Regions from separate parts of the Homo sapiens genome. Here region 1 is linked to region 2. The links come from fine-mapping of genetic effects on gene expression. A gene starts in region 2. The other region holds a variant in brackets. All regions are shown on one strand. Distances are from middle to middle. Region 1 has its middle 11 kb from the start of AKIRIN1. Region 2 holds the start of NDUFS5 (NADH:ubiquinone oxidoreductase subunit S5).

Region 1 (10,693 bases), 45 kb before region 2:
CCCTCTGTTGCCCAGGCTGGAATGCAATGGCGTGCTCTCAGCTCACTGCAACCTCCGTCTCCCTGGTTCAAGCCATCCTCAGGCCTCAGCCTCCCAAGTAGCTGGAACTACAGGCGTGCACCACCACATCCAGCTAATTTTTGTATTTTTATTAGAGACAGGGTTTCACCATGTTGGTCAGGCTGGTCTCGAACTCCTGACCTCAGGTGATCTGCTCACCTTGGCCTCCCAAAGTGCTGGGATTACAGGCATGAGCCACCGCACCTGGTCTAAACCATCTTTTGAAATGGTATGACATAGGGGTCAAATTATCTTTCATAATTATTTTTCTTTCATATAGAGAAACAGTTCAATATCATTTACTAAATGAACCATTTTTTTTTGCCTGGCTGTAACAAATAACACTATTGTCATATGCTGAACTCTCTTCCATACTGGGATCTAGTTCTAGATTTTCTTTTTTTTTTTCTTTTTTTCTTTTTCTTTTTTTTTTTTGAGACAGGGTCTCATTCTGTTGCCCAGGCTGGAGTTCAGTGGCACAATCTCAGCTCACTGCAACCTCTGCCTCCCAGATTCAAGGGATTCTCCTGCCTCAGCCTCCCGAGTAGCTGGCATTACAGACATGCCACCACGCCCGGCTAATTTTTGTATTTTTTGGTAGAGACAGGGTTTCACCCTGTTGGCCAGGCTGGTCTCAAACTCCTGACCTCAAGTGATCCACCCGCCTTGGCCTCCCAAAGTGCTGGGATTACGGGCGTGAGCCACTGTGCCCAGCCTCTAGATTTTCTATTCTTTTCCAGTATTCTATTCCTATGCCAATATTATACTAATTTGATTAAAGTAGGTTTGTGGATGTTCTGGTATCTGGTTAAGCAAGTAGTTCCCCTTCACTGTACTCCATGTTCATACTTTCCTAGTTTATTCTAGGGTATAAATTCTTCCATATGGATTTAAGGTTATTTTAATGATTTCTTAAAAACTGCCTGCCTGGCCAGGTGCGGTGGCTCACGCTTGTAATCCCAGCACTTTGGTAAGCCGAGGCAGGTGGATCACTTGAGATCAGGAGTTCAAGGTCAGGAGTTCGAGACCAGCCTAGCCAACATGGAGAAACCCCATCTCTACTAAAAATACAAAAATTAGCTGGGCATGGTGGTGGATGCCTGTAATCCCAGCTACTTGGGAGGCTGAGGCAGGAGAATTGCTTGAACAGAGGCAGAGGTTGCAGTGAGCCGAGATTGCACCACTGCACTCCAGCCTAGGTGACAAACCGAGACTCCGTCTCAAACAAACAAACAAAAAACCTGCCTGCCAGAATTCTAATTGGAATTGCATTAAATATAAGTATTTTTAAATATTTTTGTTGTTACAACGTTAAGTTTTCTTATCCAAGAACAAATAACTTTCTACTTGTCTAGCTTTGAACTTTATGTTGTTCAGTAACATTTTTATTATATTCTTCATATACATCCTGTGACTTTGTTCAGCTTATTTATAGGTATTTGAAAAAACTTTTTACCAGGCATGGTGGCTAACACTTGTAATCCCAGCACTTTGGGGGCTGCTGAGGCAGGAGGATTGCTTGAGGCCAGGAGTTGGAGACCAGCCTGGGCAACATAGCCAGATCCTGTCTCTACAGTTTTGTCTTATTTTTTTGTTTTGTTTTTATTTATTTATTTTGGCTCTGTCAGCCAGACTGGAGTGCAGTGGCGAGATCTCAGCTTACTGCAACCTGCCTCCTGGTCTCAAGTGATCCTCCCACCTCAGCCTCCCAAGTAGCTAGCACTATAGGCTCATGCCACTACGCCTGGCTTATTTTTGTATTTTTTGTAGAGATAAAGTTTCACCATGTTGCCCAGGCTCCCGGGCTCAAGTGATTCAGCCACCTCGGCCTCCCAAAGTGTTGGGATTACAGGCATGAGCAAAAAAAAAAGTTGTTTTAATTAGCCAGTCATGGTGACATTTGCCTGTAGTCTCAGCTACTCAGGAGGCTGAGGTGGGAGGAAAACTTGAGCTCCGCAGTTCAAGGCTTCAGGGAGTCAAGATTGCACCACAGCACTCCAGGCTGGGTGAGAGAGGGAGGCCGTCTCTACAAAAAAAAATTTTTTTTTTGAGACGGAGTCTCGCTCTAGGCTGGAGTGCAGTAGCACGATCTCAGCTCACTGCAACCTCCGCCTCTTGGGTTCAAGTGATTCTCCTGCCTCAGCCTCCCGAGTAGCTGGGACTACCAGCACGTGCCACCACGCCCAGCTAATTTTTGTATTTTTAGTAGAGACAGGGTTTCACCATGTTGGCCAGGATGGTCTTGGTCTCTTGACCTCGTGATCCACCCACCTCAGTCTCCCAAAGTGCTGGGATTACAGGCATGAGCCACCATGCCTGGCCTATGAAAAATTTTTTAGGATAAAAAATTTAAAAATCTTTTTTTAGAGACAGAGTCTCACTGTGTTACCAGGCTGGCCTTGAACTTCTATGCTCAAACAATCCTGCATCCGCTTCCTAAGTAGCTGGGACTACAGGAAGTCCCACCACACCGGGCCCTGGGTATTTTATATTATTGAGAATTTTTTTTTTTTTTTTTTTTTTTTTTTTTTTTAGTGACAGGTGTGTCTGGAATTGGTTCCTTCCGGTGGGTTTGTGGTCTTGCTGACTTCAGGAGTGAAGCCACAGACCCTCCCGGTGAGTGTTACAGCCCTTAAAGGTGGCATGTCCGCAGTTGTTTGTTCCTCCCGGTGGGTTTGTGGTCTCACTGACTTCAGGAGTGAAGCTGCAGACCTTCGCAATGAGTGTTACAGCTCTTAAAGGTGGTGCTCCTCCTCAAAGAGTGAGGAGCAGCAAGATTTATTGTGAAGAGTGAAAGAACAAAGCTTCCACAGTGTGGAAGGGGACCCGAGTGGGTTGCGGCTGCCATCTTGGGTGGCAGCTTTTAGTCCCTTATTTGGCCCCACCCACATCCTGCTGATCAGTCCATTCTACAGAGTGCTAATTGGTCCATTTTATGGCGTGCTGATTGGTCCATTTTTAGAGAGTGCTGATTGGTGCATTTACAAATCTTTAGCTAGACACAGAGTGCTGATAGGTGCGTTTTTACATAGTGCTGATTGGTGCATTTACAAACCTTTAGCTAGACACAGAGCACTGACTGGTGTGTTTACAATCCTGTAGCTAGACAGAAAAGTTCTCCAAGTCCCCACCCGACCCAGAAGCCCAGCTGGCTTCACCTCTCAATCCCCCCTTTAAACAGGATACCCCAACTACTGTTGGGAATTGGGCGATGACCGTTCTAGCTACTTCCTGCTGGATAGGGGCAAAGAAGGGGCCCTGCAGTTGTAGTGTCCTCCAGAGGGGAATGCTTTAGGCCAAAGGGCCAGTGGATCGGTCCAGCGGTCCTTGATAGAAGTTGTTAGTTGAGCTCATTTGGGGTTCTATTTGTAAGACCATCTGTAGCTTGATGGCCTCGATCCTAGAGGAAACAAATTTGACAAGGAGGTTAAAAATACAGGGCCCGAAGGCAAGTAATAGCAAGACGGCTGTCACGGGACATAGAGAGGGGAGAAGCCAGGTTGCCCAACTCCAGAGGTTGGTATAAGAGTTTGAAAGGCATCGTCTGATTTCAGAAGACTTTTCCTGTAAACGCTGGGTGGCATCTAGTACTATCCCTGACAGGTTAGTGTAAAAGCAACACTCTTCCCCTAAGAAGGTACAAAGTCCTCCTTTCTCAGCAGTGAGGAGGTCTAGGCCTCGGCAGTTTTGGAGAGTCACTGCTGCCAAAGAGTCTATTTGGGATTGTAGTTACTATCCTTACTGGATAGATTTTGCTATTTCTTTTTTTTTTTTTTTTTTTTTTTTGAGACGGAGTCTCGCTCTTTTACCCAGGCTGGACTGCAGTGGCACTAGCTCGGCTCACTGCAACCTCCCCCTCCCGGGTTCACGCCATTCTCCTGCCTCAGCCTCCCGAGTAGCTGGGACTACAGGCGCCTGCCACTTCGCCCGGCTAATTTTTTGTATTTTTAGTAGAGACAGGGTTTCACCGTGTTAGCCAGGATGGTCTCGATCTCCTGACCTAGTGATCCGCCCACCTCGGCCTCCCAAAGTGCTGGGATTACAGGCGTGAGCCACCACGCCTGGTAGATTTTGCTATTTCTTGCAAACTGTCTGAGAAATCCTTTGAGAGTATGTGGTAGTAGGATAATGCATGTTACACTGTTAACTTTTAGCAAACTTTACTTTAGTTAAAAACGTTGTAAATTTGGGATTTTAATTTTCCTTTGCTATTAATAAAACCTCGTTCAGTCCATATTAACTTAGAATTGGTATAGATGGCTCCTTCCTAATTCTGTAAGTACTTTAAGATTTGGCTGAGTGCAAACAACTCACACGTTTGAGCAGACCAATAATTAGGCAATTTTCCTAACTGCTTCTACAAGAGTTCCCTTATCACTTACTGAATACCCACTGTGTCTTTTTTTTTTCCCTTAATTGCCTGGGAGGAACCATCTATCATCCTGTCCTGAAGGGAGTTCCTCCTAGATCTGGTTGGACTTTTGTATGGCAATTAATTAAGATTTAGATCCCCTGTTAGGAAACCTGCTGGGTTAAGGATCTTTGACAGGAAGGCTATGGGTTGTCAGTGGCCTCAGTGCTTTCAGGCTATGCCCTTGTTTGCACTGCCAACAAGGTGGTATTGGAGTGGTACAGGGTCACGGAGAAGACCTTCAATTATCAATTATAGGTTTTAAATTTACCCTGGCTTTTAAAGGAATAGGGTACACTGTTTTTTCTTTACTACTTCCATCTCTCTTTCTCTTTGACTTCTTTGTCTCTCTCTGTCTGTCTCTTCCTCTCTCTGACTCCCTTTTTGTCTCTGTCTCTTGGGGTCTCCCTATGGTGCCCAGGCTGGTGTCAAACTCTTGGGCTCAGGCCAGGAACGGTGGTTCACACCTCTAATCCCAGCACTTTGGGAGGCCAAGGCAGGCAGATCATGAGGTCAGGAGATGGAGACCATCCTGGCTAACATGGTGAAACCCCGTCTCTACTAAAAATACAAAAAATTACCCGGGCTTGGTGGCGGGCGCCTGTAGTCCCAGCTACTCGGGAGGCTGAGGCAGGAGAATGGCATGAACCTGGGAGGCGGAGCTTGCAGTGAGCCGAGATCAGTGCCACTGCACTCCAGCCTGGGTGACAGAGCGAGATTCCATCTAAAAAAAAAACAA[A/C]AACAAAAACTAAAAACTTCTGGGCTCAAGTGATCCTCCTGCCTTGACCTCCCAAAAGTGCTGGGATTACAGGTATGAATCACTGCACCCCACCTCTCTTAATTTCTTTTTTTTTTTTTTTTTTTGAGATAGAGTCTCGCTCTGTCACCCAGGCTGGAATGCAGCTGGTGCCATCTTTGCTCACTGCAACCTCCACCTCCTGGGTTCAAGTGATCCTCCTGCCTCAGCCTCCTGAATAGCTGGGACTACAGGCGCACGCCACTACACCTGGCTAATTTTTAAATTTTTAGTAGAGACAGGGTTTGCCACGTTGGACAGGCTGGTCTCAAACTCCTGACATCAGGTGATCTGTCCGCCTTGGCCTCCCAAAGTGCTGGGATTACAGGTGTGAGCCACCACACCTGGCCTTAATTTTTTAACATTACATTTTTTTTTCTTTTCATTATATTTTTTCATAACTGTGGTTCTCAAGTACATTAGAGGACTTGTATTTGCCTGTGCCCCTAAATAATAGGGTAAACATGCTTTTGACATGTGATTAGAGTAAACTGAACATTCTTGAGACTGGTACAGCTGGGTGCAGTGGCTCACACCTGGAATCTCAATGCTTTAGGAGGCTGAGGTGGGACAATCCCTTGAGACCAGGAGTTTGAGACCAGCCTGGGAAATATAGCGAGACTGTCTCCATAAAAATACTTTTTTTTTAAATTAGCCAGTCCTAGCTCCTGTAGTCCCAGCTACTCATGAGGCCGAGAAGGGAGAATCACATGAGTCCAGGAGTTAGAGACTCCCGTGAGCTACGATTCTACCATTGCACTCCAGCCTGGCAATAGAGCAAGACCTGATCCCTGAAAAAAAAAAGAAAAAGACAGAGAAGAAGAGGAAAGGCTATTGAATGTTATTAAAGCCTTTTCAGCATCTATTGATATAATCTTAAGGTCTTTCTTCTTTAATTCATGGAATATATTTATTTATTTATTTATTTTCGAGGCAGAGTTTCGCTTGTGTTGCCCAGACTGGAGTGCAATGGCGCAATCTCAGCTGATTGCAACCTCCGCCTCCCAGGTTCGAGATTCTCCTGCCTCAGCCTCCCCAGTAGCTGGGATTACAGGCGCCCGCCACCATGCCTGACTAATTTTTGTATTTTTAGTAGAGACAGAGTTTCACCGTGTTGGACAGGCTGGTCTTGAACTCCTGACCTCAGGCGATCCACTCTCCTTGGCCTCCCAAAGTGCTGGGATTACAGGCGTGAGCCACAGAGCCCGGCCAATTCATGGAATTTATGAATTATGTTGATATGCTTCCTGATAGTCTAGCCACCCTCATACATTTGGAATGAGCCAGTTTGGTCACCTTGTGGACTTGAATCTGCCTGGGCCCCTAAATGATATGGTAAGCTGGTGTGACTGTGAAACCAACCCAATAGTCCCATAGACAGTTGTTTTTGGATAAACATAGAAATTGACCCTTCTGATCCAAAAGCTTGAAACTTACATTTGTTTTGTTTGTTTGTTTGTTTGTTTGTTTTGAGATGGAGTCTGGCTGTGTCGCCCAGGCTAGAGTGCAGTGGTGCAATCTCGGATCACTGCAAGCTCCGCCTCCCGGGTTCATGCCATTCTTCTGCCTCAGCCTCCCGAGTAGCTGGGACTACAGGCACCTGCCACCATACCCGGCTAATTTTTTGTATTTTTAGTAGCGATGAGGTTTCACCATGTTAGCCAGGATGGTCTCGATCTCCTGACCTCGTGATCCGCCCACCTTGGCCTCCCAAAGTGCTGGAATTACAGGCATGAGCCACCGCGCCCTGCCGGAAACTTAACATTTGTTTTATCTGAGTTTCTTCCTCAAGAAAGGATCTCCAGTCCTCTCAAAACGTATCAAAGAACTGAAACTCACCAGATCATCTCCTCCAGACAATGAGACTCCAGGCCCCCAATTCATCATGATTGCTTCCTTACCCTTCTGAGTTTCTGTTTTCTCATAGATAGTTACATTTCTTCCCTGATATATAAACCCCAAATTTTAGCTGGTCAGGGAGATGGATTTGAGACCAAGCTTCTATCTCCTCAGCTGCAGCACCCAGTTAAAGCCTTCTTCTAGCAATACTCATAGTCTCAGTCACTGGCTTTCTGTGCTGTGAACAGTAGGACCTAGACCGAACCCCTGGTGTTTCGGGAACAACTCTTGTGTACTGCATTCCAGTTGCTAATGTTTTATTTGGAATGTTTGCCTCTGTTCATTAGTAAAGTTGGTCTATAGTTCTTTCTTGGTACTACATTTTTCAAGGTTTGGTTTTAAAATTATGTCAGCAGCATAAAATGAATTGGGGAGCTTCTCAATTTTCGATTGGATCAAATAACTGTAATAGGTCAAATAACTATGGACCTGTGTGTTCTTTAAAGGTTAAATGGAACATAGTTAGAAAGCTATTAGGTTCTGTTCTTTTTATTATCTAAAGGTGGATCTTTAATCACCTTTCAGGTCTCTTTTGTGATGTGTATTAGTTCATTCCCACATTGCTATAAAGAAATACCTGAGACTGGGTAATTAATACAGAAAAGAGGTTTAGGCCAGGCGGGGTGGCTCAAGCCTGTAATCTCAGCATTTTGGGATCCACCGAGGCAGGTGGATCACCTGAAGTCAGGAGTTCGAGACCAGCCTGGCCAACATGGCCAAACCCCATCTCTACTAAAAATACAAAAATTAGCAGGGCATGGTAGCATGCCCCTGTAGTCCCAGCTACTTGGGAGGCTGAGGCAGGAGAATCGCTTAAACCTGGGAGGTGGAGGTTGCAGTGAGCCGAGATCACGCCACTGCACTCCAGCCTGGGTGACAAAACGAGACTCTATTCCCCGCCTCCCCCCACAAAAAAAAAAAGAAAAAGAAAAAAAAAGAGGTTTGGCTGGCCACGGTGGCTCACGCCTATAATCAGAACACTTTGGGAGGCCGAGGCAGCTGGATCATTTGAGGCCAGGAGTTCAAGACCAGCCAGGCTAACATGGTGAAACCCCATCTCTACTAAAAATAAAAAAGTTAGCCAGGCATAGTGGTGTGCGCCTATAAGCCCAGCTACTTGGGAGGCTGAGGCACAAGAATAACTTGAGCCCAGGAGGCAGCGGTTGAAGTGAGCCAAGATCGCATCACTGCACTCCAGATTGGGCGACAGAGTGAGACTGTCTCAAAAGAAATAAAATAAAAAAATGTGTTGCCATCAAGTTGTACGCAGTATTCTCTTACAATTATTTTTCATTTCTAATTTATTTATGATTGTCTCCTTTCTTATTCCCAATCTTAAACATTTTTTTCCTGTCTCCTTAGTGAGATTTTTAAGGAGTTTATTATCCTTTTTAAAAAAAAACCAGCTTTCAGATTTATTCATCCTTTTTACTATTTTTATCTCCTAGTTTACTAATTTCAGCTTTATCTCTTTTAGCTTTTAGTTTTTATTTTTTTCTTAAGATGAGTTTTTAGGTCATGTATTTATGTATATATTTTTTTCTTTTTTCTTTTTTCTTTTTTTTTTCTAAGAGGGAGTTTCACTCTTGTTGCCCAGCTGGAATGCAATGGCACGATCTTGGTTCTCTGCAACCTCTGCCTCTCGGGTTCAAGGAATTCTCCTGCCTCAGCCTCCGGAGTAGCTGGGATTACAGGCGCCCACCACCATGCCCAGCTAATTTTTGTATTTTTAGTAGAGACGGGGTTTCTCTATGTTGGTCAGGCTGGTCTTGAACTCCTGACCTTATGCGATCCGCCCACCTCAGCCTCCCAAAGTGCTAGGATTACAGGTGTGAGCCACCGGCCTCATAAATGATTATTAAATCAACTTTGTTTATTCAGCTCTTAAGTTCCTCTGTGTTTTTGCCTATTAGTCAGTACTAAATCTGTGTAATCACAATATCATTGTATTTTTCTCAAGTTCTCATTGCCTTTCTTCTTTTTTTTTTTTTTTTTTTGAAACGGAGTCTCGCTCTGTCGCCGAGGCTGAAGTGCAGTGGCACAATCTCGGCTCACTGCAAGTTCCACCTCCCGGGTTCACGCCATTCTCCTGCCTCAGCCTCCCAAATAGCTGGGACTACAGGCGCCCGCCATCATGCCCAGCTAATTTTTTTTTGTATTTTTTAGTAGAGATGGGGTTTCACCGTGTTAGCCAGGCTAGTCTCGATCTCCTGACCTTATGATCCGCCCGCCTTGGCCTCCCAAAGTGCTGGGATTACAGGAGTGAGCCACCGTGCCCGGCCTTTTTTTTTTCTTTTTTTGAGATGGAGTTTCGCCCTTGTTGCCCATGCTGGAGTGCAGTGGCACGATCTCGGCTCACCGCAACTTCCACCTCCCGGGTTCAAGCGATTCTCCTGCCTCGGCCTCTTGATAGCTGGGATTACAGGTGTGTGCCACTATATCTGGCTAATTTTGGATTTTTAGTAGAGACGGGGTTTCACCATGTTGGCCAGGCTGGTCTCAAACACTGACCTCAGGTGATCCACATGCCTCGGCCTCCCAAAGTGCTGGGATTGGAGGCATGAGCTACCGTGCCCAGCTGTCTCTTCTATTTCAGTTTTTTTTAGCCTTTTTATCATGTATCTCCAGATAGCCTATCAACATCCAATGAGAAATATATGTATTTCCATAGTCTATCAGTATACAATAGATATCCAATGGATTTTTGTTTGTTTGTTTGTTTGAGACAGTCTCGCTCTGTCGCCCAGGCTGGAGTGCAGTGGCGCAATCTCAGCTCACTGCAACCTCCGCCTCCCAGGTTCAAGCGATTCTCCTGCCTCAGCCTCTGGAGTAGCTGGGATTACAGGCGTGCACCACCACACCCGGCTAATTTTTTTTGTTTTTAGTAGAGAAGGGGTTTCACCATGTTGGCCAGGCTGATCTCAAACTCCTGGCCTCAGGTGATCTGCCCAACTCGGCCTCCCAAAGTGCTGGGATTACAGGCATAAGCCACTGCACCTAGCCTGCAATGGATATTAATGGACTTTCTGAAATTTATTATATATAACATATATTAATACATAAATATATAATTACATAAGCATAAAATATATAAATGAACATAGACATATATATTGTATTATAGCTGTGTTCCTCTGTAATCATATGTGTTTTATTTTTGCACTTAAAAACATTCAGAGAAGGGGTGTATGGCACACAAGGAAAGGCTAAGAACTCCTACCTTTAACAATCCCACCTGCCCTTACAACTTCAGTAACCATTTTTCCACCGATGACTCACCTGAATTTTTTTCTCCAATTCAGATCTCTCTTGAATTCCAGACCCGCGTATTTACATACAAATACCTCCACTTGAGACGCCCAAGTGAGGCTTTAAAGGAACCTCTAACACAACATGTCCAAAACAAAACTCATTTTCCTCTTCAGTCTGATCACTTTCCAATGAAAACTTTCTCAGAATATGGTTCTGGGAAAGCTAGTAGCCTAGTCCATCTCCCTCACCTCCATATCTAATCCTCACCAAGGTCT
Region 2 (10,693 bases):
CCATGTTGGCCAGGCTGGTCTCAAACTCCTGACCTCAGGTGATCCGCCTGTCTCAGCCTCCCAAAGTGCTAGGATTACAGGTGTGAGCCACTGCACCCGGCCTATGTGCCTATTTTTATATCAGTACTATGCTGTTTTGTGACTATGGCCTTATAGTATAGTTTAAAATCAGGTAATGTGATGCCTCCAGATTTGTTCTTTTTGCTTAGCCTTGCTTTGGCTATGCAAGCTCTTTTTTGGTTCCATATAAATTTTATAATTTTTTTTTTTAGAATTGTTTTTTCTAATTCTGTGAAGAATGGTGGTGGTATTTTGATGGGGATTGCGTTGAATTTGTAGATTGCTTTTGGCAGTATGGTCATTTTCACAATATTGATTTCTACCCATCCATGAACATGGGATGTGTTTCCATTTGTTTGTGTCATCTATCATTTCTTTCAGCAGTGTTTTGTAATTTTCCTTGTAGAGGTCTTTTGCCTCCTTGGTTAGGTATATTCCTAAATATTTTATTTTATTTTTTGCAGCTATTGTAAAAGGTGTTGAGTTTTTTTTGTTTGTTTTTGTGGTTTTTTGTCTTTGTTTTGTTTTTGTTTGTTTTGAGACAGAGTCCCACTCCATTGCCCAGGCTGGAGTGCAATGGCGTGATCTTGACTTGCTGCAATTTCCGCCTCCCAGGTTCAAGTGATTCTCCTGCCTCAGCCTCCCAAGTATTTGGGATTACAGGCACCTGCCACCATGCCCAGCAAATTTTTATATTTTTAGTAGAGACGGGGCTTCACCAAGTTGGCCAGGCTGGTTTCAAACTCCTGACCTCAGGTGATCCACCCACCTTGCCTTCCCAAAGTGTTGGGATTACAGGTGTGAGCCACCACACCCAGCCTCCCTCCCTCCCTCCCTCCCTCCCTTCCTTCCTTCCTTCCTTCCTTCCCTCCCTCCCTCCCTCCCTCCTTCCTTCCATTCTCTCTGTCTCTCTGTCTCTCTCTCTTTTTGACAGGGTCTTGCTCTGTCACCCAGACTGGAGTTCAGTAGCTCAATCATGGCTTACTGCAGCCTGGAGTTCAGTAGCTCAATCATGGCTCACTGCAGCCTCAACCTTTTGGGCTCAAGTGATCCTCCTGCCTCAGCCTCCTGAGTAGCTGGGACTACAAGCAACACACCACCATGCCCAGCTAATTTTTTTTTAATTTTTTTTGTTGTTGTTGTATTGACAAGATCTCACTATGTTGCTCAGGCTGGTCTCGAACTCCTGGGCTCAAGCAATCCACTTCAGTCTCCTAAAGTGCTGGGATTACAGGCATGAGCCATCATGCTTAACCCTGCATGGTATTTCTGAGGAATGATATGATGAAATCTGTATTTTAGGATGACCAGTCATGCAGAACAGATTGGAGTGAGGAGTTGGGAGACAAGAAGGAAGAGATAAATTGGAAATTTGTTGAAGGAATATTTGACAGAACTTGTGCTGTAATTAAATACTAAATGAAAGAAAAGGAAAAGGCAGAATACAACTCCAGAGTTTGCTGCCTAAGTGGCTGGGAAGATGACACCATCAACAAACAAGAAAAGGGGCAGGGGACTGGAAAAGGTAGTGATAACTCGCCACTAGCACTTTGTGGGCAAGGGCCATGAGTTACCAGTTATATAATCCTGCAGTATTCAGCTGGACATACAAGAGGTCTTCACAAAGTTTATGAAAAATGTGTATTATGAAAAAACTATGCATAGATTTCAAAAAATTTTTGCACCAAAATAAATTTGTACTAACTTGTTATAACATGTCTGAGCAGGATCTACTTTGAGGCACTATGAAGGATAAGACATTAGTTTGAAAAGAGCCCCTATAAGAGTAACATGAATTCTGCTAAAATTGAAGCAAGAACAAATATCAAGTTTATGGTTAAGCTTGGGTGGAAGAATGGTGAGATCATTGAAGCTTTACGAAAAGCTTATGGGGACAATGCCTCAAAGAAATCAGCAGTTTACAAATAGATAAATTGTTTTTTGTTGTTGTTTTTTGAGAGGGAGTCTCACTCTGTCACCCAGGCTGGAGTGCAGTGGCATGATCTAGGCTCGCTGCAGCCTCTGCCTCCCACGTTCCAGTGATTCTCCTGCCTCAGCCTCCCTGGGTAGCTGGGATTACAGGCGCCTGCCACCACGCCCGGCTAATTTTTGTATTTTTAGTAGAGATGGGGTTTTGCCATGTTGGCCAGGCTGGTCTTGAACTCCTGACCTCAGGTGATACACCTGCCTCGGCCTCCCAAAGTGCTGGGATTACAAGCATGAGCCACCGCACGTGGCCAGATAATTTGTTTTAAGAAGGGATGAGATTAGGCCGGGCTGTGCCTCTACTACAGACTCCTAGTATTTATTTTCTTTAAGAATACTTGGCCAGGCGTGGTGGCTCATGCCTGTAATCTCAGCACTTTGAGATGCTGAGGCAGGCGAATCACCTGAGGTCAGGAGTTCAAGACCAGCCTGGCCAACATGGTGAAACCCCGTCTCCACCAAAAATACAAAAATTAGCTGGGCATTGTGGTGGGCTCTTATAATCCCAGCTACCTGGGAAGGCTGAGGCAGGAGAACTGCTTGAACCCAAGAGGCGGAGGTTGCAGTGAGCCGAGACCACGCCATTGCACTCCAGCCTGGGCGACAGAGCAAGACTCCATCTCCAAAAAGAAACAAAATAAAGAAGGGATGAAATGATGTTGAAGATGAAACCCACAGTGGCAGACCATCCACATCAATTTATGAGAAAAACATTTTGTGTCCTAACTGAAGTGGATTGACAACAGCAGAAATAATAATCAATACCATAGGCATCTCACTTGGTTCGGCTTACATAATTCTGACTGAAAAACTAAAGTTGAGCAAACATTCCACTTGGCAGGTGCCAAACCATCATGCCCAGATCAGCTGCAGAGCTTTCAATGGGAATTTTAAACAAGCAGGATGAAGATCCTGAAGCATTTCTTTGAAGAATTGTAATAGGAGATGAAACATGGCTTTACCAGTACAATCCTAAAGACAATGCACAATCAAAGCAATGGCTACCAAGAGGTGGAAGTGTCTGGTCAAAGCAAAAGTGGACCAGTCAAGAGCAAAGGTCATGTCATTCGTTTTTTTTTTTTTAATGTTCAAGGCATTTTGTTTATTGACTTTCTGGAGGGCCAAAGAACAATAACATCTGCTTATTATGAGAGTGTTTTGAGAAAACTAGCAAAAGTTTTAGCAGAAAAATGCCTGGGAAAGCTTCACCAGAGTCATTCTCCGCTATAACAATGTTCCTGCTCATTTCTCTCAGCAAACAAGGGCAATTTTGCAAGAGTTTTGATGGGAAATCATTAGGCATCCACCTTACAGTACTGATCTGGCTCCTTCTGACTTCCTTTTGCCTTTTTTTTTTTTTTTTTTGGAGACAGAGTTTTGCTTTTGTTGCCCAGGCTGGAGTGCAATGGTGCGATCTCGGCTCCCTGCAACCTCTGCCTCTCCAGTTCAAGCGATGCTCCTGCCTCAGCCTCCTAAGTAGCTGGGATTACAGGTGCCTGCCACCACACCTGGCTAATTTTTTGTATTTTTAGTAGAGACAGGGTATCACCATGTTGGTCAGGCTGGTCTTGAACTCCTGAACTCAGGTGATCTGCCTGCCTCAGCCTCCCAAAATGCTGGGATTACAGGCATTAGCCACTGCACCTGGCCCTTGTTTTCTAATCTTAAAAAACTCTTTCAAGGGCACCCCATTTTTTCTTAGGTTAATAATGTATAAAAGAGGCTGCCTTATCCTTACAAGCAGCCTGCCCTCAACTCTCTCTCAGAGTGTTAAAAAAAAATGTATAAAAGGGCCAGGCATGGTGGCTCATGCCTGTAATCTCAGCACATTGGGAGGCCCAGGCAGGAGGATCACTTGAGCCCAGGAGCTGGAGACCAGCCTGGGAAACATAAAGAGATACTGATCTCCACAAAAAATTTTTTTAAAGAATTAGCTTGGCCGGGCGCAGTGGTTCACGCCTGTAATCCCAGCACTTTGGGAGGCTGAGGCGGGCAGATCACGAAGTCAACAGATCTAGACCATCCTAGCCAATATGGTGAAACCTCGTCTCTACTAAAAAAAAATACAAAAATCAGCTGGGAGTGGTGGCGCACACCTGTAGTCCCAGCTATTCAGGAGGCTGAGGCAGGAGAATCGCTTGAACCTGGGAGGTGGAGGTTGCAGTGAGCCAAGATTGCACCACTGCATTTCAGCCTGGTGACAGAGTGAAGCTCTGTCTCAAAAAAAAAAAAAAAAAAAGAATTAGCTGGGCACAGTGGCATGTCTGTAGTCCCAGCTACTTGGGAGGCTAAGCAGGAGGATTGCTTGAGCCCTGGAGTTTGAGGCTGCAGTGATCTATGATAGCACTACTGCACTCCAGCCTGGGTGATGGAGTGAGACCCTATCTCAAATAAAATAATAATTATAATAAAGACTGCCAGGCACATGGTGGCATGCACATGTGGTCCCAGCTATTTGGGAGGCTGAGGTGGGAGGATCACCAGAGCCCAGGGAGGTTGAGGCTGCAGTGAACTGTGATTGCACCACTGCACTCCAGCGGGGCAATGGGAGTGAGAATCTGTCTCAAAAGTAATAATTATATATATATATATTTATATATATATATATATATATATATATATATATATATATATATATGTTCTAGTATTTTCCTCCCATACCTCCAATGTATAATATCTCATGCACCCTGTGGTCCACCCCCCAAAGACATACACACAACACTTTAGAGTCTCTGATGTAGTCAAAGGGAGTCATTGGAGGTTCTGGAACAGATGACAGGCATGGTAGCAGTTGATTCACAAACTGAAAGCTGAGACATCAAAGAACTGCGACTGCCTTGGAATGTTTCCCATGTGCTAGCCACCGCCTCAGTGCTTTATACATAAATCAGTTAATCCCTATAGCAAGCCTCCATTGTGAATACCATAATTATCTTAACAGACGAGGAGACTGAGGCACAATGAAGTTAAGAAACTTTCCTAGAGTCACACGAAATTGGTGGGGGCCTACTTTTTTTTTTTTTTTTTTTTTTTTTTTTTTTTTTTTTTGAGACTGAATCTAGCTCTGTCGCCAGGCTGGAGTCCAGTGGCGCGATCTCACCTCACTGCAACCTCCGCCTCCCGGATTCAAGCGATTCTCCTGCCTCGGCCTCCCCCCACTAGCTGGGATTACAGGCACTCGCTGCCACACCCAGCTAATTTTTGTATTTTTAGTAGAGACAGGGTTTCACCATATTGGCCAGGATGGTCTCGATCTCCTGAGCTTGTGATCCGCCCACCTCGGCCTCCCATAGTGCTGGGATTACAGGCCTGAGCCACTGCGCCCGGCTGGGGGCCTACATTTGACCCCACGTGGTGGTTTGGGCTCATAGTCCATGTGCTTAACCACTAGTGGGTAGGCAGGGAGCCAGTGTTCTTTCTCTCCTGTGACTTTGGTGAAGTCTCTCACCACTCAGTGTTGTCGTGAGCATGCTAGGCAGAGTGCAAGAAAGGAGCAAGAACTCACTAATGGCTAGGCCTTCCCTGTGTCTCTGTAATTGATGGGTTTGGGTTTTTTTTCCTTTCTCTCTCTCTACCTCCTCTCTCTCTTCTTCATCCTCTCTCTCTCACTCTCCCCCTGAGATAAGGTCTTGCTCTGTTGCCAGGGCTGGAATGCAATGGAATGGTGTGATCATGGCTCACTACAGCCTCAATCTCCTGGGCTCAAGGGATCCTCCCACCTCAACCTCCTGAGTAGCTGGAACCACAGGCATGCACCACCTCGCCCGGCTAATTTTTTATTTTTTGTAGAGAGGGGAGTTTCGCCATGTTGCCCAGGCTGTTTTCGAACTCCTGGGCTGAAGTGATCTTCCTCCCTCAGCCTTCCAAGGTGCTGGGATTGCAGACGTCAGCCACCGTACCAGGCCAACGGGCTCGGTTTCTATGGTTTTGTGGGGAGACGGCTGAGGGAAGGTCGGCTTCCGGCGTCGCGCTGCAAACGTCTCGCTGAGGTCATCCTTTACGGCAGGCGTCCGCGTCGCTAGCTAGTCGTTCTGAAGCGGCGGCCAGAGAAGAGTCAAGGGCACGAGCATCGGGTAGGTAGGGGCTGCTTATGTCCGCGCGGCAGCTTAGCTTAAGGACCTTCCTTCCGAGGTCTCTTTAACAGATTTCCTCTTGGCTTGCTGTGTGTCCCCTTCTCCCAGACCTGAACTCAGGGCGTGTTCCCTGCCCTCCCAGGCCGCTTCACCTCCACAGCTAATGGCACCGAAGCCTGGAGATTGCCGCTCTCTCCACTTTCCACATTTGTTTAGGTTTTTGCCGGACTAATGTTTTGGCTTTCTGTTTCTTAACCTAAAGTCTACGATCCTTATCCCAGCTTTCCAGGCTCTGCGTGATTTCGGCCCCGCCGGCCTCCTGAGCTCATTTCATTCTTTTCACCGTCATGCACGCTGCGCTCCATTGTCCCCCAAACATAGCCAGCACTTCCGGCTGTAACTCCGGGCTGTTGCCCAACTGGAACACTCTGCCCACTGATCTTCACTTGGCGAACTCGCAAGCCATGTTAAAGGCATTTTCAAGTCTCCGGGCAGAGTTCGTGCTTCCTCCTTCGAGCTCTTACCCACTCGTGTTCCTTGCAGTGTATTCGCAATTCCGAGTGTGTGTCTCTGGTGCTTACGTTGGAGCTGCTTTCCCCCGCATCTGAGTGCCTGGAACGTAACTACTCAGTAAATGATGACTGAGGGATGGGAAGGAACTTAAGAAGTTAAATTCACCTTTTTGTTGAGATGGAGTTTCGCTCTTGTTGCCCAGGCTGGAGTGCAGAGTGGCGCGATCTCGGCTCACTGCAGCCTCTGCCTCCCGGATTCAAGCGATTCTCCTCCCTGAGACTCCCGAGTAGCTGGGATTACAGGCATGCGCCCCCACGCCCGGCTAATTTTGTATTTTTTTAGTAGAGAGAGGGTTTCGCCATGTTGGTCAGGCTGGTCTTGAACTCGCGGCCTCAGGTGATCCGCCCGCCTCGGCCTCCCAAGGTGCTGGAATTACAGGCGTGAGCCACTGCGCCCAACTAAATTCACCTTTAAATCTACCATGAGTACACATTTATATTGATATTTGTGGGTGTGCGCGCGCTTCCTTTCAGTCATTTTAGGCAGTCAGGGTTTGTTTTTGTGTGTGTGTTTTTACATTTAACATTATTATGTATTTGCATGTAAATTTTTTTCCCTACTGTCTGTAATAGTCTACAAAGTAAGTCTTAACCCATTTCTTTCGCTCTGGTTTTTTTTTTTTTTTGAGACAGGATCTCGCTTTGTTGCCCAGGATGGAGTGCAGTGGCCAGGTCATAGCTCACTGAAGCCTTGAACTCCTGGCCTCAGTCTCCTGCCTCAGCCTTAGGAGTAGCTGGGACTACAGGCGCACATACCACCACAAGTGCCTTTTTTTTTTTTTTTTTTTTTTTTTGAGACAGAGAACCTGACCAAAGGATCCAAATTCTTTTTTTCTTCTTCTTCTTTTTTTTTTTTTTTTTTTTTTGAGACAGAGTCTCGCTCTGTCGCCCAGGCTGGAGTACAATGGCGGATCTTGGCTTATTGCAACCTCTGTCTCCCCAGTTCAAGCAGTTCTCCTGTCTCAGCCTCCCGAATAGTTGGGATTACAGGCATGTGCCAACACGCCCAGCTAATTTTTTTGTATTTTTAGTAGAGACGGGATTTCACCATATTGGCCAGGCTGGTCTTGAACTCCTGACCTCAGGTAATCCACCCGCCTTGGCCTCCCAAAGTTCTGGGATTACAGGCATGAGCCACCGCGCCTGGCCCACAAGTGGCTGATTTAAAAAAAAAATTTAGGCCAGGTGCAGTGGCTCACACCTGTAATCCCAGCACTTTGGGAGGCCAAGGCGGGCGGATCACCTGAGGTCAGGAGTTCAAGACCAGCCTCGCCAACATGCTGAAACCCCATCTCTACTAAAAATACAAAAATTAGCTGGGCGTGGTGGTGCGCACCTGTAGTCCCAGCTACTTGGGAGGCTGAGGCAGGAGAATCGCTTGAACCCTGGAGGAGGAGGTTGCAGTGAGCCAAGATTGCACCATGCGCTGCAGCCTGGGTAACAGACGGAGACTCCATCTCACGTGGTAGGTGAGCCACCGCTCCTGACCGAGAAAGGATTTCTATGCATTGTTCTTTAGTTATAGTTCTCTTTTCCTTGAGTTTTGAAAAAGCGCAAAAACTGCTTATCTGCCATAAACTGGAAGAACCTATTTAATGAAAAAGTTTGGTGAGAAGAAATCAGGAGAATAATATCAAACAGTGTTCTAGAGGGCTACTTAGCATGATTATCTAATTTTTTCTTAGAAATTTCTCAGTTGATTGCCCTCTTGTGGTATTTTATTTACTTATTTTTTTAAATCTTCCATTACAGCCATGCCTTTCTTGGACATCCAGAAAAGGTTCGGCCTTAACATAGATCGATGGTTGACAATCCAGAGTGGTGAACAGCCCTACAAGATGGCTGGTCGATGCCATGCTTTTGAAAAAGAATGGATAGAATGTGCACATGGAATCGGTTATACTCGGGCAGAGAAAGAGTGCAAGATAGAATATGATGATTTCGTAGAGTGTTTGCTTCGGCAGAAAACGGTAAGGAAATGATGGAGGTGGAAGCTGAATTACTTTCTTGTTCCTTTGGGACTCTTTTTTTTTTTTTTTGAGACGAAGTCTCACTCTTGTCCCCTAGGCTGGTGTGTGATGGCGCCACCTCGTCTCACTGTAGCCTCTGCCTCCCAGGTTCAGGCGATTCGCGTACCTCAGCCTCCCGAGTAGCTGGGATTATAGGCACCTGCCACCACGCCTGGCTAATTTTTGTATTTTTAGTAGAAACGGGATTTCACCATGCTGGCCAGGCTGGTCTTGAACTCCAGACCTCAGGTGATCCGCCCCCCTCAGCCTCCCAAAGTAGTGGGATCACAGGCATGAGCCACCGTGCCTGGCCTCCTCTGGGATTACTCTTAAGTGTTTTTAGTGGGTCATTGAGCAGTGGCTTGCCAAATGTGAATTGGCAAAGCTTTTCTGGTGAAATACCTTTCCTACTTTGGTACCATGATGAGGAAATTAAATGCCTTCAGATATGAGGATGGTCCATTGTTCCTCAGCATTCTTTCTCTTCTCCCAAATTTTCCTTAGTATTTTACCCTGCTTTAGCCACCAGGTTAGAAATTGCATGTGTGTGTATACCCATTTTTTCAGTTGGCTGTGAAGCAGAGAATATCAACTAGTTTTGGATGTTGACCCTTGAAAATCTTTGGGTGAAAATATGTTCAAATCCATTGAATCCTCATTGGAAAAGAGGTTTAACCTTGCAAATCCATTACATTCAACATCTTTGGATTCATTCCACTCTGAAGAAGATGGAGGTGTTAATGAGATTGCTGTACATGAGCGTGAACAACGATGCAGTGGAAAAGGGATGTTAACAGCTTAGTGTTCACCTCCTCAAAAGTTGAATGAGTTGGCCAGGCACGGTGGCTCACGCCTGTAATCCCAGGACTTTGGGAGGCTGAGGCGGGTGTATCACGAGGTCAGGAGTTTGAGACCAGCCTGGCCAAGATGGTGAAACCCTGTCTCTACTAAAAATACAAAAATTAGCAGGGCATGGTGGTGGGTGCCTATAGTCCCAGCTGCTCGGGAGGCTGAGGCAGAAGAATTGCTTGAACCCGGGAGGCGGAGGTTGCATGGAGCCGAGATCGTGCCACCGCACTCCAGCCTGGGCGACAGAGCGAGACTCTGCCTCTAAAAAAAAAACCAAAAAAACAAATTTAAAAAAATCCCATGCAGTGGCTCATGCCTGTGATCCCAGCACTTTGGGAGGCCAAGGTGGGCGGATCACCTGAGGTCAGGAGTTCAAGACCAGCCTGGCCAACATGGTGAAACCCCGTCTCTACTAAAAATACAAAAATTACCTAGGCATGGTGACAGGGGCATGTAATCTCAGCTACTCAGGAGGGTGAGGCAAGAGAATCGCCTGAAACTGAGAGGCAGAGGTTCCAGTGAGCTGAGAACACACCACTGCACTCCAGCCTGGGCGACAGAGCGAGACTCCGTCTCAAGAAAAAAAAAAAAAAGATGGCCCGGCACAGTAGCTCACTCCTGTAATCCCAGCACTTTGGGAGGCCGAGGCAGGCGGATCACAAGGTCAGGAGTTCGAGACCAGCCTGACCAACATGGTGAAACCCCGTCTGTACTAAAAATACAAAAAAATTAGCTGGGTGTAGTGGCTGGCGCCTATAGTCCCAGCTACTCGGGAGGCTGAGGCAGGAGGCTGAGGCAGGAGAATGGCATGAACCCGGGAGGCAGAGCTTGCAGTGAGTCGAGATTGTGCCACTGCACTCCAGCCTGGGCGACAGAGCGAGACTCTGTCTCAAGAAAAAAAAAAAAGAAAATAAAAAAAAGATTTTGATAAATTGATACCAACAGGAGGCATTGTAGTAAGGTGGAAAGAACATTGGATTGGGAGTTAGGAGAGTCAGGTTCTGATGCTGGTTCTGCCACCACTCATTTGTTGTTGGTTGATTAATTTTAATTTATGTTTTGAGACAGCGTCTCACTCCCGTCGCCCAGGCTGGAGTGCGGTAGCGTGTTCACAGCTCACTGCAGATTCAACTTGGGTTCAGGT

Evidence for each region. PIP is the estimated chance that this variant, and not a neighbour inherited with it, causes the effect.
Region 1: its variant is fine-mapped to the expression of NDUFS5 in whole blood (INTERVAL, PIP 0.90).

Annotation. Positions count from the first base shown.
Region 1 is chr1:38,975,086-38,985,778 of GRCh38, forward strand. No RefSeq gene overlaps it. Among named protein-coding and RNA genes, the nearest start is that of AKIRIN1, 11 kb to the right of the region's middle. The variant A/C (reference allele first, on the strand shown) is at 5,211.
Region 2 is chr1:39,020,280-39,030,972 of GRCh38, forward strand. NDUFS5 (NADH:ubiquinone oxidoreductase subunit S5) reads left to right here and starts at 6,071. Exons shown (of 3, transcript NM_004552.3): 1 at 6,071-6,123; 2 at 8,444-8,661. The coding sequence starts at 8,446. RefSeq lists enhancers at 1-122, 5,903-6,152, 6,012-6,598, 6,599-7,184 and a silencer at 7,955-8,120.